Linked DNA regions of Homo sapiens. The protein of the gene in region 1 interacts with the protein of each later gene in a pairwise test. Each region holds a gene or a part of one and is shown on either strand. Other genes may lie near its edges.

What was found. The genes of interacting proteins can lie anywhere in the genome.
Region 2: the proteins of AMMECR1 (region 1) and ZNF124 interact in binary tests that used the Homo sapiens proteins (3 or more experiments, as listed by UniProt).

What each region holds. Positions count from the first base shown.
Region 1 is NC_000023.11:110,195,751-110,203,220, forward strand, and holds part of AMMECR1 (nuclear protein AMMECR1), read right to left. Parts: intron 6,787-7,470; coding exon 6,696-6,786; intron 5,301-6,695; coding exon 5,204-5,300; intron 2,885-5,203; coding exon 2,770-2,884; 3' UTR 1-2,769.
Region 2 is NC_000001.11:247,154,981-247,162,450, forward strand, and holds the end of ZNF124 (zinc finger protein 124), read right to left. Parts: intron 4,834-7,470; coding exon 4,707-4,833; intron 4,087-4,706; coding exon 4,026-4,086; intron 2,424-4,025; coding exon 1,586-2,423; 3' UTR 9-1,585; downstream 1-8. UniProt on the Homo sapiens protein: May be involved in transcriptional regulation.

The DNA of each region.
Region 1 (7,470 bases):
ATATTTCAACATGTTCAAAGTTAATTCATACCACATAATTAACAGCTTTGTATATACGACAAAGGTGAAAGGGTCTAGCATTTGTTTGAAGCACACCATTACAGTTTGTATAACACCCTTTACACTACAAAGTCTTTTAGTCAAAAGCTACTTAGAGACAAAAATGCACTTTGCATTACTTGAATACAAAAGGAGACAAAACTATCCTTTTCCCCCAAGCCATGTTGGGAAATATTGCTGACCTCGTCCTTTGAAGCCTGCAGGATGGTTATTTCTTCAGTTTAACGTTATTACACTGCTAAGAAAATCTGTATAACATCTGCATATATCAAGGATTTTAAAAAATCTGATATGATTTTAGAGTCCGCATGACCAGTCACGTGACCTGCTCAAGATTGATTAGCACCGTTAAATAAACACACATATATGTATGTATGTATGTGTAAGTATATGTACACACACACATCTATGTATGTAATAAATCTTTGCTAAAAAAACTTCTAACCATAAGCTCACCCAGGACGAGGAGCCTGTTGAACCGATGAGATGATGGATAAGATGGATTTCACGATAATATTGGTCTATTTTGTCTCTCTTCAGTTTGCTTGTTTTATTTACCTTTTTTTCCTTTTTTTTGTTTTTTGTTTTGTTTTTTTTTTGTTTGTTTTTTTTTGCAGCAGACAATATCATTCAGCTTGTGCTCAGTTTCCCTATAAGGGTAAGAAAAGTTTCCATCAGGTAGCCACTTGTTTTTATACTGAAAGACTAATCTGCTCCAAAATGCTCCCAAGTAGAAATGACAGGACTCAAAATCCCTTTCTAAAGCCCAACAGCTAACTTTTTCTGACTAATCTCTAGCTTCATTGAAACTGGCTACCAAGATTGCATTTCAGGCTAACAATTGGCTTCTTAGTTAAGGCATCACAACTGAAAATGGTTATTTCAACAATGGATGCTGTGGATGAAGGAATACCAACAAACTTCTAAGAACTCTCATCAAAAACTAAAGCAATTTGCTTTGCCCCAGTGGCAGGCAGAAGGAATTTAGCCCATTATCTCACAAACTAGGAAAGGATTTTTGAATTCTGAACTAGCAGTCTGTCACTTGTCACAGTAACTATATGTATAAGCTGTATCATTTTGATATTCAGTGACTTTTTTGTAGTTTTAGAATATATATTCTGCAGCATACTTTAATTCATCACTTGATATGTTGGCTTCCTATTTGAAAAAATTATATATATTTTTCCAAAGACACACAGACACACACACATAACCATAAAATGAAGGTCATCTTCCTCCAGAATAATCTGTCATTTTTCCTGGGGATATATGTATGGACCTCCTATCGACATCAGTAAGTTATCTTTGTATGCATCATGGGAAGACTATACTTGCAGATGAGCTGGGCTCTAACTATAGCATATCTGAATGCCAACTCCATTTTCACAGGTGTGACATAACATCTTATCAATGTAGTAAATGTGTTTCTATCAAAAGTATGTAGTGCAGAAAGAAATTCAAGCTATTTTATAGTATCTCTAAAACTCTAATATTGTCCCCATGACAAACATATCTGAAATCATGGCAAATATGAACTTTTGTTTTACTAAATTATCTTTACCATATCTTTAGATGGTAGCTAAAATGGATTCTAGCCAATCATGACTTATTGAAACCTAGAGCTAACAAATTTAAATTAATATAAAATAGACAAATGTCTCTTATTGGTTATTTGCTCAAAATAATTTTTTTTCAGCTTAAAAAAATACTTAAGAGTAAGGAATTTGTCTAATCTTCTGTTTCACATATAGAAACAATAAAGTTTTACAAGAATATTTTTCTAAATTGCCTTTTTTCTAACCCCTCTTAATTCCACTTAATTATATTCTTCTCAAAGGCACTAAATTCTGTATCTGCTCTCTTCCTAATATTTGCTGCTCATAAAATGTTTCCTGTAGCCTTTTTGAAAGGTAGTTTGTACCTTCTCCAAACAGTGTTTTAGTTTGCAAATTGGTTCTATAAAGTGGTGAGGCAGTCTCTTCTATGATAACCAGCACAATAGGGATAAATGATTTCTCTCTCTCTGTGACAAGCCCTATCACGGACCTTTGAATGCTCACTACTAGAACTAAAGTTCATGTATTTTCACCATGGGAAAAACATATACTTAAGGAGTGAAGACCCAACTACTAGGCTGTCATAGCAAAGTGAATTTCAGACAAAAATCAAGAGTAATATACAAATACCTGAATTTGATATGAATTAATCCCAAACTCAGGTATCAAAAAACAACTATCTTACTGAGGAAAACTAAAGACGAACCTAAGTAAAATCCCTAAAAACTGCACACTTTCTTCCATCCACAGTCAAAGGAAGGGAGGCAGGGAAGGAAGAAGGAAAACGGGAAGGAAGAAGGAAAACAGGAAGCAAAACGGGAAGAAAGGCAAGGAGGACAGAAAAACAGAAACCTGACTGAGACAGCAAAGCAAAATTCTACATAATATTATAAGGAAAAAAAAACCCAAAATTATATATGCTGCAAAAAAAAAATCAACGATCTAAAATAATAAAACAGGATCTTAACAAATGCCATTTTTCTACCCGTTACCATGATGATCTTAGTTGACGATGTCGAAGCTTCACCATGGCAACGGAAACTATCATCATAAAATGGTACAGTAAAAGAGATAGCTAGACCAAGAAGGTGTAGGGTCTCCTGGGAAGAGGTCTGCAGAGAGGCCCAGTGACTGGTTGTGCGGCTCAGTGTCAGGAATAATGGTTGTATGGCGGAAGGGGATGCCCAATGCCATTTTGGAAATGATGATGCTGGCGATGAGCAAGGTATTCAGCATAGCTCAGGGTCATCTTTTCACTACGATACCTGAAAGAAAGTCAGGGAAGAGAAAAGTTAACATTGAGAAGTAGGTGACATGCCATTGTCACTGCTAGGAAGGACCTTAAAGATAATTTTATAGATCAGGAAACGGGGTCCCAGAGAGAAGCAGTGACTGCCCAAGGTCACAGAGATAGTAAGTAGCAAAGCTAAGATCAGAACTTGGAAATCAAAAGTCTGAGTCCAGTGCTCTTTGCACTCTACTACTCCTTGTTTAAATTGTTCTTTTAAAAATTTTATTGTCCCCTCAGCCCCAGTTTTCTAACAGGAGTATGCATCTCATTCGATTCAGTTGATTATTTTTCTTCAGAAATCTTCCACCTCTCCCTCTTTTACTGTTCCTTTCTCTGTCCACACATCTACTTAGGTCTTACCATTAAGTAACAACAACAAAAACAACTTTTCTTAATTCTGGTATCCTGAACTCTCACTTTTCCCCATGTCTGGCTTTCTTTTCATTGCCACATTTCTCAAATAGTTGTGTGTATTTTCTGCCTTCAATCCCCATCTCACACTACTACTCAGCTCAGTGCTCCTTGGCTTCTGCTGCCACCCTTCCATGGAAATAGCCATCAGAAGGCTTCCCCTGACTCAGCTTGATCTTTCCATTTGCCCATCATGCCCTTAAGCTCTCTGGTGCTAAGGATTCTATACCTCCACATGCCCCTGGTTCTCCCCTGCCTCTCAGATTGCTCCTTGTCTCTGAATGCTCCTATCCCTGCCTTGTAGAATTTTGTTATGTTTCTGTATTCAGTTATTTTGACTCTATACTGTCCCCCCACAGTGAACCCTATCCTTACAATTTCAATCATATCTAGCCATGAGCTCATACATTTTCATTGACCTACTAGATATTTCTATATAGATATCCTAAGAAGCACCTCAAATCCAAAATCGATGCATAAACTTAACACACTCCTCTTGTGGTCCCTACTTTGATTAAAGGGATTACCTTGGTCCCTTTTATCTAGATTAACGCCTTGACTTTCTTCTTTATTTCTAAATGATGACCCAGTCCTTTCATTTCTTCCACATTATTTTCATATCGATCCCAACCTTTCTTCCCATCTCACTGCCACAGCTCTAGTTAAGGCCCCTGTTGCACCTCTTTTGGACTGCTGCCACAGATTCTTAGATAATACCAACGCTTCCTGGCTCATTTTCCTGTTTCCAATTCCATTCTTATACCTCCCCAAGCCCATCTGATTAAAATCCTTCAATAGCTACCAATTGCCTATAGAACCAGGTCCAAACTAATTACTCTGGAACTCAGGACCCTCAATGGTCTGCCCAACCTACCTTCTGGGCCATATTTTCCTCTAATGATCAGCTTCTCTATTACACTAAAAGACCAGCCCAATCAGACTATTTCATATTCTCAGAACTTGCTTTGTACTTCACCACCCTTGACTCACAAGGTCTTCCTTAAGGGAATCACTTTCCTCCTGTCAAAAAAAAATCCCTTTTTACCTGTCAAATATTCTATCCATTCTTCAAACCCAGCCCCCAGCTGACCTCTTTGAAACTATCTGTTATCCCCCTCCCACCCTCTTAGAATTCCTCTTTCCCTACTTTATGGGAATGGATCTCATATTATCCATCATATTCTGCCTTAGATTAATAATTTTGTCCATGCCCCTTCTATTCTCCTCCACTGTGAACTCAGGGAGAGCAGAGATGGAGGTATTTCTGAATTTGTAACTCCTCAGAGCTGAGAATAGGCCATTTTTAGACTATAAGCATTCAATGTAGTTTTATGGAATTGAAATAAATGGAACCAGCAGCCCATTTTCCTAAAATGTACGGTATTTTCCTTTTTAAATAAGCATCCCTATTTTTTCATGCTGAAATTTATTTAGCATTTGAGTTTAGCTCAATTGTGTTTTTCAGCAAGCTAACAAGTTTTCTTGGTAGACTTCTATCACTGCCAAAATTCTGAGATTAAATTCGAATTTGAGGACTGTTTATCAGAATCCTGGGGTTCTGCTCAGTAATGTCAAAAGCTAGCCAATTGCTAATTCAAGTACTTTCTCCAATAAAGTAGTCTAAAATCTCCAAGGGCTTGCTCGTACAAAAGCCAGAGTAATCACACAGAGCTAAAGATGGGAAAGATAGGCTCATACATCACACAGGCTTTACTACGAAGCAGAGTTCCATTGTATCCACCCTCAGTATGACCCTGCCATTCATTTCCACTCTGTTTCAGAAAAAAGAAGTGTAGTTAGAGAGACCAAAGAAATCAAAGGGTTATAGGCATACACATCAAAATGTACAGGTTAGCCTTGTGCTAGAAAATGTCTTCTGTACCTGGTCAGTTTTATGGTTTTCCTGAATTCATTAGTAATCGGAGCTTTGTATCCTCCTTTCCTCAATAAGGAGTCTATGGTCTGTATATGGTCCCATCCTGTAGAGAGATGACCAGATAAAATATCAGTCAAGCACATGTAACAAACACCTTTCATTAAATACAAAATGACTTTGTAGAGGTCAGCTATCACTGTCACCAAATGCCATCAAATCTTTTGGTCCTAAAAACAATCACACAGAAAAGCTAAGATTTCATCCTTTACAAAAGCAGGGTCATCACCACACTCCTTAAATTCTAGCTATCCACAATGCCAAACAACACTGGCTCCTTTATCTTCGCATTCGAAGTCAAGGGGTCTAAGGGGCTGGCAGAAATTGCTCAGTCATGACTGTAACAAACCATATCTGTTGTACTTTCCTCTAACAGTGACATCTTTAAAAGGGAGTGAAAAGCCTATATGCCATTTTGCCAAGTCAATATTTAGGACTCCCACACCACCTCACAGTAATTGTTGTTCCTTATGGTATCTTCTGTAATTCTGTAATCATTCAAGTTTGTGTGCAGTATTCAAGGGTATTTTGATTAGTTCTGACATGGATGGTATACTAGTATCTGAGGCCCTCTATCTTTTATGTATGCTTTACAAAGTTAATGATACTAGGAGATTAAGACATTTTCTAAAGCAACCCAAATAAATCTTCAAGTAACTGCCTTGAAGACTTTCTGATCTGGGGATTTAATGGCATTAATTTTGCTATTATGTATCTCACATTTATAAGACAAACACGGGAAAACCAAATTACAAATGCTTTCTGATGAGAAGAAAAGCTCCCCAAGATAAAAGATTCATTTCGACCAACATGAAACCAGAATTTAGTAGTTGCTAAGAAAGGATAAAATACTACAGAGTGAAAAGTTACTTTGTGTTACAATGTTGGTTCATACAGGTCTATGCTCTATGTGTGAAACAGGAAAATTCTGATTAGGAAGTGTAGACCAAGCATATAAAACACTAACACTTCATGTTTTCGCAATCCTCTGATCTTAGTGGGAAACCTAGAATCTTAGTATCAGCAGGATGAGTAATGGCAACCACCTAAGAATGAAACATTTGATACTTAAAATGACAAAGAACTATGTGGCTGATTGTCAAACAAAAGGCTTGTTTATGCCACAATGGAATATGGGAAAAATGCATTTCAAATCGGTAGCAAATTGTTGCCTAAAATGAAAACCAACTAATATAAATTCTGCTTTTTAAAAAATATACACTTATGGGTTTATGCCATCAAACTTCAATGCAGGGATTCAACTTCTGTGAGTACTTCACCGACTTGATACAGACATTGCAGTGGCAGTGATGGAAGAGTCACTTCTTATAATTTGACACTTCAATTATTAGACATAACTGCAAGGTCAGATAACGCATTTCAGTTTGTATATTTGTTTAAATTCTTCACCAGATCATATGAAATAAAGTACAACAATGACCTTGCTCCTTTGCAACCTCCGGTAGGTAGGTGGCGGTGCGTTTTGATCCTTTTTCATTGATGAATTCTATTCTAATGCCATGTACACCCACCTGAAAGAAATTGGCAGTTTTATTAGTACAGTCTTCTTCATAGAATCAGAAAGAAAAGGTTATAATTTAACTTTCAAGAGAATGCAGTTCTTCCTTTCCCTTTGTTTTTAGAAGGACGTATAAGTTTTCTCTTTCCAAAGCTTTGACTTTGGATTTGAAGGCCATTATGATGGCCACGGAGAGGGAAAATATTGATTTGCATGTGCCCAACATGCACTAGGCTATGATACTATGTTTGGAAAACTGGAACAACTATTCTGAAGCTGTCTGTAGAATAAGACGGTTGATGGCAAAAATCCTGCCCCACTCCCAAATTGTAGCTCATGCCAATAAAGAACTAGAGACAAAGGTGACTGACTTCAAAGAGATAGCAAACAACCATCCTGTTTTGCAGGTACACTCACCACTTCTGATTAAGTTCCAAAATTTTTGGTGCTGATCCCCTCCCAAACTGTCTACTCCGTTTAAAACATTAAATTATACGTAGGCAAGCAAACACAGTCAGGTAAGATTGAAAATTAATAATGAAAACAACCAGATCCTACATCATCACCCAGTGTAGACAGCATTTCTTTAAAAATGCATTATGACTTAGAGTGGGGTAGTAGCAGACCTTCACTGTCCATCTACACCATTGTCTTCACACAGCTCTACTAAATTTAAGAATAAAGATTTCAAATCACT
Region 2 (7,470 bases), on another chromosome or scaffold:
AAACTTTCTCAACCTGCTTTAAGGAATTTATTTTAAAAACCCTCAGCTAACATCATACATGATGATAAGACTGGATGCTTTCTTTCTCAGATTAGACACAAGACACTGTTCGATCACAGGTCTCTCTCCTTAAACCAATGTTACCTATGCAAATAGCCAAAAATAATGACAATGTAAAGAACAACAGATGAAAATAATAATTCACGTGAGAATATACTCTATAATAAACTTTACATACTTACAAATTGACAGCAACTCTATTAGCAAAGAAAATAGACTCATTTATCAATGGCCAATTAATAACAAAATAATTAAACTACACAGAAGTTAAACCTACAAATACATTTCACACATCTACTGTGTAACCCACAAAATTTTTAAAAAATTTTAAAAATATTTTATACTTTAAATATTTAAAAAATATTTTTTAAAATGGCTATGCAAGAAAAAAGGAAAAGAAATACATTTCAATTTACCCATATAACCAACACACTTTAAAATGGGTAGAAAAAGGAAATTTATTTACCAGCTTAAAAAAGAAGAATACATATTTAACTCTTGTACTACTGCTTGAAGAATACTTACAGAAGTCTTGCCTCAGCTGGGCGTGGTGGCTCACGCCTGTAATCCCAGCACTTTGGGAGGCTGAAGCGGGCGGATCACGAGGTCAGGAGATTGAGACCATCCTGGCTAACACGGTGAAACCCCATCTCTACTAAAAATACAAAAAATTAGCTGGGCATGGTGGCAGGCACCTGTAGTCCCAGCTACTCAGGAGGCTGAGGCAGGAGAATGGCGTGAACCTGGGAGGCAGAGCTTACAGTGAACTGAGATTGTGCCACTGCACACCAGCCTGGGCGACAAAGTGAGACTCCATCTCAAAAAAAAAAAAAAAAGTCTCACCTCAATTTTTTTTTTTTCAAAAGAAGTGAAAATCTATATTCTAGAGACTCTCTTCAAAAATGAGCAACCAATATATTCAATTTATTTATAGCTCCTAAAACATCTCATTCACATAGTGAATTTTCTTGAGAATTGTACTATAATTATTTTCCATAAGGTTTTCCATAATATTTACATTTACAGGATTTATTTCCAGTGGGAGTTTTCACATGACCTTTAAAGTAATTGTTAAAATTCAGAATTTTCTGTATTTCTAGGATTTCAATCTGGTGGGCATTCTTTTATTTATAAGGTCAATCTGGAGTATGTGTTACCATGTGTCTCTGAGTGAGTTATAGGATAAATGAAGGCATTCTCACATTCGATACCTTCATAAAGTTTTTCTCTAGAATGAGTTATGTTATACCATCAAATACCACTGGAACAACTGCAGGCCTTACCACATTTTAAACATTCATATGGATTTTCTTCAGTGAGTCCTTTCAAGTTTTCAAAAAGAAATGGAAAAATTGAATGCTTTACCTTATTGCTTATAGTCATAGGGTTTATCTCCAGTTTGATTCGTTTCATGTATTTGAGGAAATCTGGGAAAATTAAGTACTTTCCTACACCTTACATTCACAGTTTCTCTCAAGTATGTGACTGTTCATGTTTTTGACAAAAACTGTAGTGATTAAAGCCTTTACATTTTTTTACATTTATAGGGCTTTTCTCCAGTATGAGTTTTTTTATGCTTCCAAAGGGTACTAGCACGACTAAAGGCTTTGCCACATTTCTGACATTCATAGGGTTTCTCTCCAGTATGAGTCCTTTCATGGTCACGAAGGGAACTGGAACATCTGAAGCCTTTACCACAATTGTTACATACATAGGGTTTCTGTGCAATATGAGTTTTCTCGTGTTTCTGAAGGGAACTGGCGTATCTGAAGGCTTTCCCACATTGCTTACATGGATAGGGTTCTTCACCAGCATGAGCCTTTATATGTCCTTGCAAGGAACTGAGACAACTGAAAGCTTTGCCACATTCCATGCACACATAAGGTTTCTCTCCAGTGTGAGTTCTTTCATGGTAATGAAGGCAATTGGAGTAACGGAAGGCTTTCCCACAGTGCTTACATTCATAGGGTTTCTCTCCAGTATGAGTTCTTTCATGGTCACGAAGGTGACTGGAACGACTGAAGGCTTTCCCACATTGCTTACATTCATAGCGTTTTTCTCCAGTGTGAATCCTTTTATGTCTATTAAGAGAACGGGAAAAACCTAAGGCTTTCCCACATTCCATACATTCATAGGGTTTCTCTCCAGTGTGATTTCTCTGATGTATCTGAAATGAACTGGGAATATTAAAAACTTTCTCACATATTGTACAACCATAATGTCCATTTCCAGTGTGCATTACTGTGTCTCTGTGAACCCTTGTGACAGAAAGGGAAGTTTTCTGACATTGTTTACATGTACATGGCTTCTTTCCGCATTCCTCACACCCATATGGGTTGTTTCCAGAATGAGATATGATGTGCCTATGAAGGGATGAATGACGTATGAAGAATTTTTCACACACAATGCATTCATGTGGTTTTACTCTAGCAGGAATTTTTTTGTTCAGATTAAAATTTGGCATCTGGAGGTTTTTCTACACTGACTTATTTAATTTTACACAGTATGTCTATCATATGACTTCTGCAAAAAATGACAACCCCATCATTAATGGTTTATTAGTTATTTTCTTTTATTACTAAGTCTGAACTTACACTGCTACCAATATCAGAGAAAGTGCAGGTTTTCTAACATAAACAAATTGAACATAAATGGATTGATTAGTCTACAACATGGCTCCCTCCCCTATAGCTATTAACAATACAGTAATATTCTCATATGCAGTTTCTTAGTATTGAATACAGTTTGGGTATTTTCTCCCTTCAAATTTCATGCTGAAATTTGATCCTCATGTTGGAGGTATGACCTGGTGTGAGGTGCTTGGGTCATGGGAGCAGATTCCACATAAGTGGCACTGTTGTGGTAATGAGTGACTTCTCGCTCTATTAGTTCCTGAAAGATCCGATTGTTAAAAAAAAAAAAAAAATGGTCGGGCATGGTGGCTCACGCCTGTAATCCCAGCACTTTGGGAGGCCAAGGTGGGCAGATCACTTGAGGTCAGGAATTCAAGACCAGCCTGGCCAACATGGTGAAATGCTGTCTCTACTAAAAATACAAAAATTAGCTGGGTGTGGTGGCATGTTCCTGTAATCCCAGCTACTTGGGAGACTGAGTCCGGAGAATCACTTGAACCCGGGAGGCGGAGGTTGCAGTGAGCCAAGACTGCACCACTGCACTCCAGTCTGGATACCAGAGAGAGACTCCATCTCAAACAAAACAAAACAAAACAAAAAAACCCCAAAAACTTTGGCACTTCCTTTCTCTCTCTCTTGCTCCTTCTCTCCCCATGTGACATGTCAGCTCCCCTTCCCCTTCTGCCATGACTGGAAGCTCTCTGAGGTCCTCATCAGAAGCAGATGCTGGCTTTATGCTTCTGATAAAGCCTGCAGAACCATTAGCCAAATAAAACTCTTCCTTATAAATTACTCAGCCTAGGTATTCCTTTATAGCAATGCAAGCAGACTAAAACAATACTGTTTTCAAGTGAACTATTTTGCAAACATTTAACATCCATGTTACATTGAAGTATATATTTTTGGTAAAAACTTTGAGAATAAATTGATGTTGTCTTAATTTATTTTGTTTGCTTGGTTTTTTTTTTTCCCCGAGATGGTGTTTTGCTCTTGTTTCCCTGGCTGGAGTGCAATGGCACAACCTCAGCTCATTGCAACCTCCGCCTCCCAGGTTCAAGCAATTCTCCTGCCTCAGCCTCCCAAACAGCAGGGATTACAGGCATGCACCATCACACTGGGCTAATTTTGTATTTTTAGTAGAGACGGGTTTTTGCCGTGTTGGTCAGGCTGGTCTCAAACTCCTGACCTCAGGTGATCCGCCCACCTCAGCATCCCAAAGTGCTGGGATTACAGGTGTGAGCCACCATGCCTGGCCTTGTTTGCTTTAAACATATGATTATATACTACAATTGACCCCAAGGGGGACTGCTTCCTCTTGTGAGGGCAAATTACCTTAGATTTCTTGAAGAATTTTTGTACTGATCTTCAATGCTCTGGTCTTCCCCTTTGTTTCCTAAAATGTAGACCCAGAAATATATTACAAATTATTTGAAATTATAGAAAAATTACTAGACTCTAGGTGCTATGTTGGGGATATGGTTTGTACCCACCAAAATGAATGCTGTAATTTGGTCATCAATATGGCAACATTGTTTGTGTTATGGGTACAGATTCCTTATTAATAGATTAATGTCCTTGCTTGGGAATGCATGTTTTCTCTTACTCTTGCAAGACTGAATTAGTTGCCAGAGGGCAGGTTGTTATAAAAGCAAGTTTAGCTCCCAAGAATTGCTCTTATTTTCTTGCTGTGATCCCTTTGCACATGCCCACTTGCTTCTGCTTCATGCCCTGAGCTGAAGTAGCATCAGGTCCTTACCAGATGCAACCTTGGACTTTCTAGCCACTAGAATCATAAACCAATATAAAACTATTTTTGTAAATTACCCAGGATCAGGTATTCTGTTATCACAATTAAAAAATAGACTAAGAAACAAGAGTCATTGCACACTGGGTCCATGCCTCATTCACTCATCAAAGTGTTCCCTTTGTACATTCCAAATCATGGAATGACATTGAAAACCATGAAACACTTACTTTCTGATTGACTAAGTGAAGAAATATTGTGATTCTTACCTATGGAAGCCAGATTCCTGAAGGTTTCCTGCATCACGTCTCTATAGAGATTCTTCTGGGAAGGATCCAACAAAGCCCACTCCTCCTGGGTGAAGTTCACAGCCACATCCTCAAAGGCAACCGAGTTCTAAAATATTCCACATTTTTGTAGAGGATGGATGAGACTGAAAGCACTGGAAATCTGTAGTCAATTTATAAGATGTTCATCTGATTCTGTGGCGAACATTTATTCTACTATTTGGTCACTAGAACTATGACTCTGTCTACACTTCCTTTCTCCCACATAGCAGTTCTTTTTTTTTTTTTTTTTTTTTTTTTGAGACGGAGTCTCACTCTGTTGCCAGGCTGGAGTGCAGTGGCACCGTCTCAGCTCACTGCAATCTTCGCCTCGCAGGCTCAAGTGATTCTCCTGCCTCTGCCTCTCAAGTAGCTGGGACTACAGGCACATGTCACCACGCCCAGCTAATTTTTGTATTTTTAGTAGAGACAGGATTTCACCATGTTGGCCAGGATGGCCTCGATCTCTTGACCTCGTGATCTGCCTGTCTTGGCCTCCCAAAGTGCTGGGATAACAGGCGTGAGCCACCGCGCTCAGCCAGCAGTTCTTATGCTAAAGTTGAACTGTTCAGCAAGGCAGCAGCAGAGAAGGAACACCCTTCTTGTTGGTGGGTCCAGGGAGTAATATTTGCTGTTATGATTTTTCTTTATAGCATATACCTGCAGTACATATCATATCAAAGTCTTACTATCTGGTGTGCATAAGAGAGTTAATATGAGCCGTCACAAGACTACTTACCCTTAGAAATACCTGCTACAAAGTTCAACCTTTGCTGGTATGAGGGAACTTACATTTTAAGAGGCATCCCAACAACCTAAGTGATAAAAGTAGCTCACTGTTGCTAAATAGTTTATCTAAACAATCTGGTATTTGCTGAACCCCTGTTTTCCTTCCAAAAGTCTATTATTTTGTTTTATTGTAGCAGTGGTGCCTAGGGGGATCAGCCTCAATAAACAAACAAAAACACACTCTGAGCACTGAGTATCTGATGAGCTTCCCTGGTAGATAATATTTCATATATGATGTCACAACTTTTTAATTGGGAAATTGAGCCCAATCCACGTGGTTACACAAAGAGAAAATGTGTAGAAGCTTATAAGTGCTTCACTCAAGCCCAAATTTAATCAAGAGGTAATTAACACTAATAATCAATATTCAATAATCCAAAAATAATTATTTTACAATTTCTACTGAAAAATGTCAAAGCAGAATAGAATAAGTGAAAAGGCATGCGTTCAAAGAAAAAAACTCAATGTCATCTAGATGTCACCTCTTACAAATGATATTTATGTAAAATTTCATAGATGCCTGAAACAGACTTTCTAGCAGTTCAGCAGAAACTACTTTTCAAAACCTACAGAAATAACAAACGCCTAACAACCGTCAAAGTCTTCTGAATAACAGTGTGATGGTTTGCCTAATACACATCAATGATTTTCAAATATAATATTCAGGGCAGTGTAGTATAAGCAGAGAGATAAAGAACTAGGCCAAGAGAAAGGCATATAGTCTTTAATTAGCTGGAATTGATATGGAAAGCTGACTAATAACAGAGGAGGCATTGTAGGATAGTGAAGGAAGTATCAAGCACTTTAAACATGGAACAAAGCTAACCGGTATTTAATTGGGAAAAAAATGAATTGCATTGACCTCTATTAGTTGGACAATAATCAATTTGTCATATATTCAAAAGTAAAAAGTATAAATAGACCACTTGCAGAAGTCACAGACAAGGTTTTTTTTGACATATGAATAGGAGAAAAGGAGCAAACAATAGAGACTGACAAATTCAAATATATTAAAATTAGGAGAATTAAAAGACAAAAAACAGTAAAATAAAAATCTGCAATACATGCAATATAAAAGAAATTAGTGTGCACAGTAAAAATGAATGAAAACATGATTAAAAAATGGGAAAAAAAAGCAAAAGATACATAACAAGAAAAAAGACCATTTATGGAAAGAGATCCATTTTCTTGGTAATAAAACAGCCAAATAATATGGCATATTACTATAATAATAATAGTAAATAATAGTCCACATTCTTTAGAAGAACAAAAATTAGAGAATCTCAAGTGGTGATTACCACACCAAATAAATACGCAGAAATGAAGGCCAAGGCAGTGGATATACTCCATTGCTATTTCCAGTAATTTGAACTTTACCACAATCTACAGTCCAGTAATTTTTCTCTAATGTCCAGAAAATTTATTGTGCATTATCAGAGTTTATATTCAGCATTCTTAAGGAAAAGAAATTCCAACCATGAATTTCCCATCCAGCCAAAAGAAGCTTCATAATCATTTTCAGACAAGCAACTACTAAGAGAATTTGTTCCCACTAGATCTGCCTTATAAGAGTTCCTAAAGGTAGTGCTAAATATGGAAAGATCATTAACAGCCACCACAAAAACACACGTAAGTACATAGACCAGTGACACTATAAAGCAAGCATACAAACAAGTCTGCATAATAACTAGCTAACGACACAATAACAAGATCAAATCTACACATATGAATAGTAACCTTGAATGTAAATGGGCTAAATGCCCCAATTAAAAGGCAAAATGACAAGCTGGATAGAGAAACAAAACCAATCGTATGCTGTCTTCAAGAGACCCATCTCACATGCAATGACGCCCACACATTCAAAGTAAAGAGATAGAGAAAAATCTACAACACAAATGGAAAACAGAAAAAAGTAAAT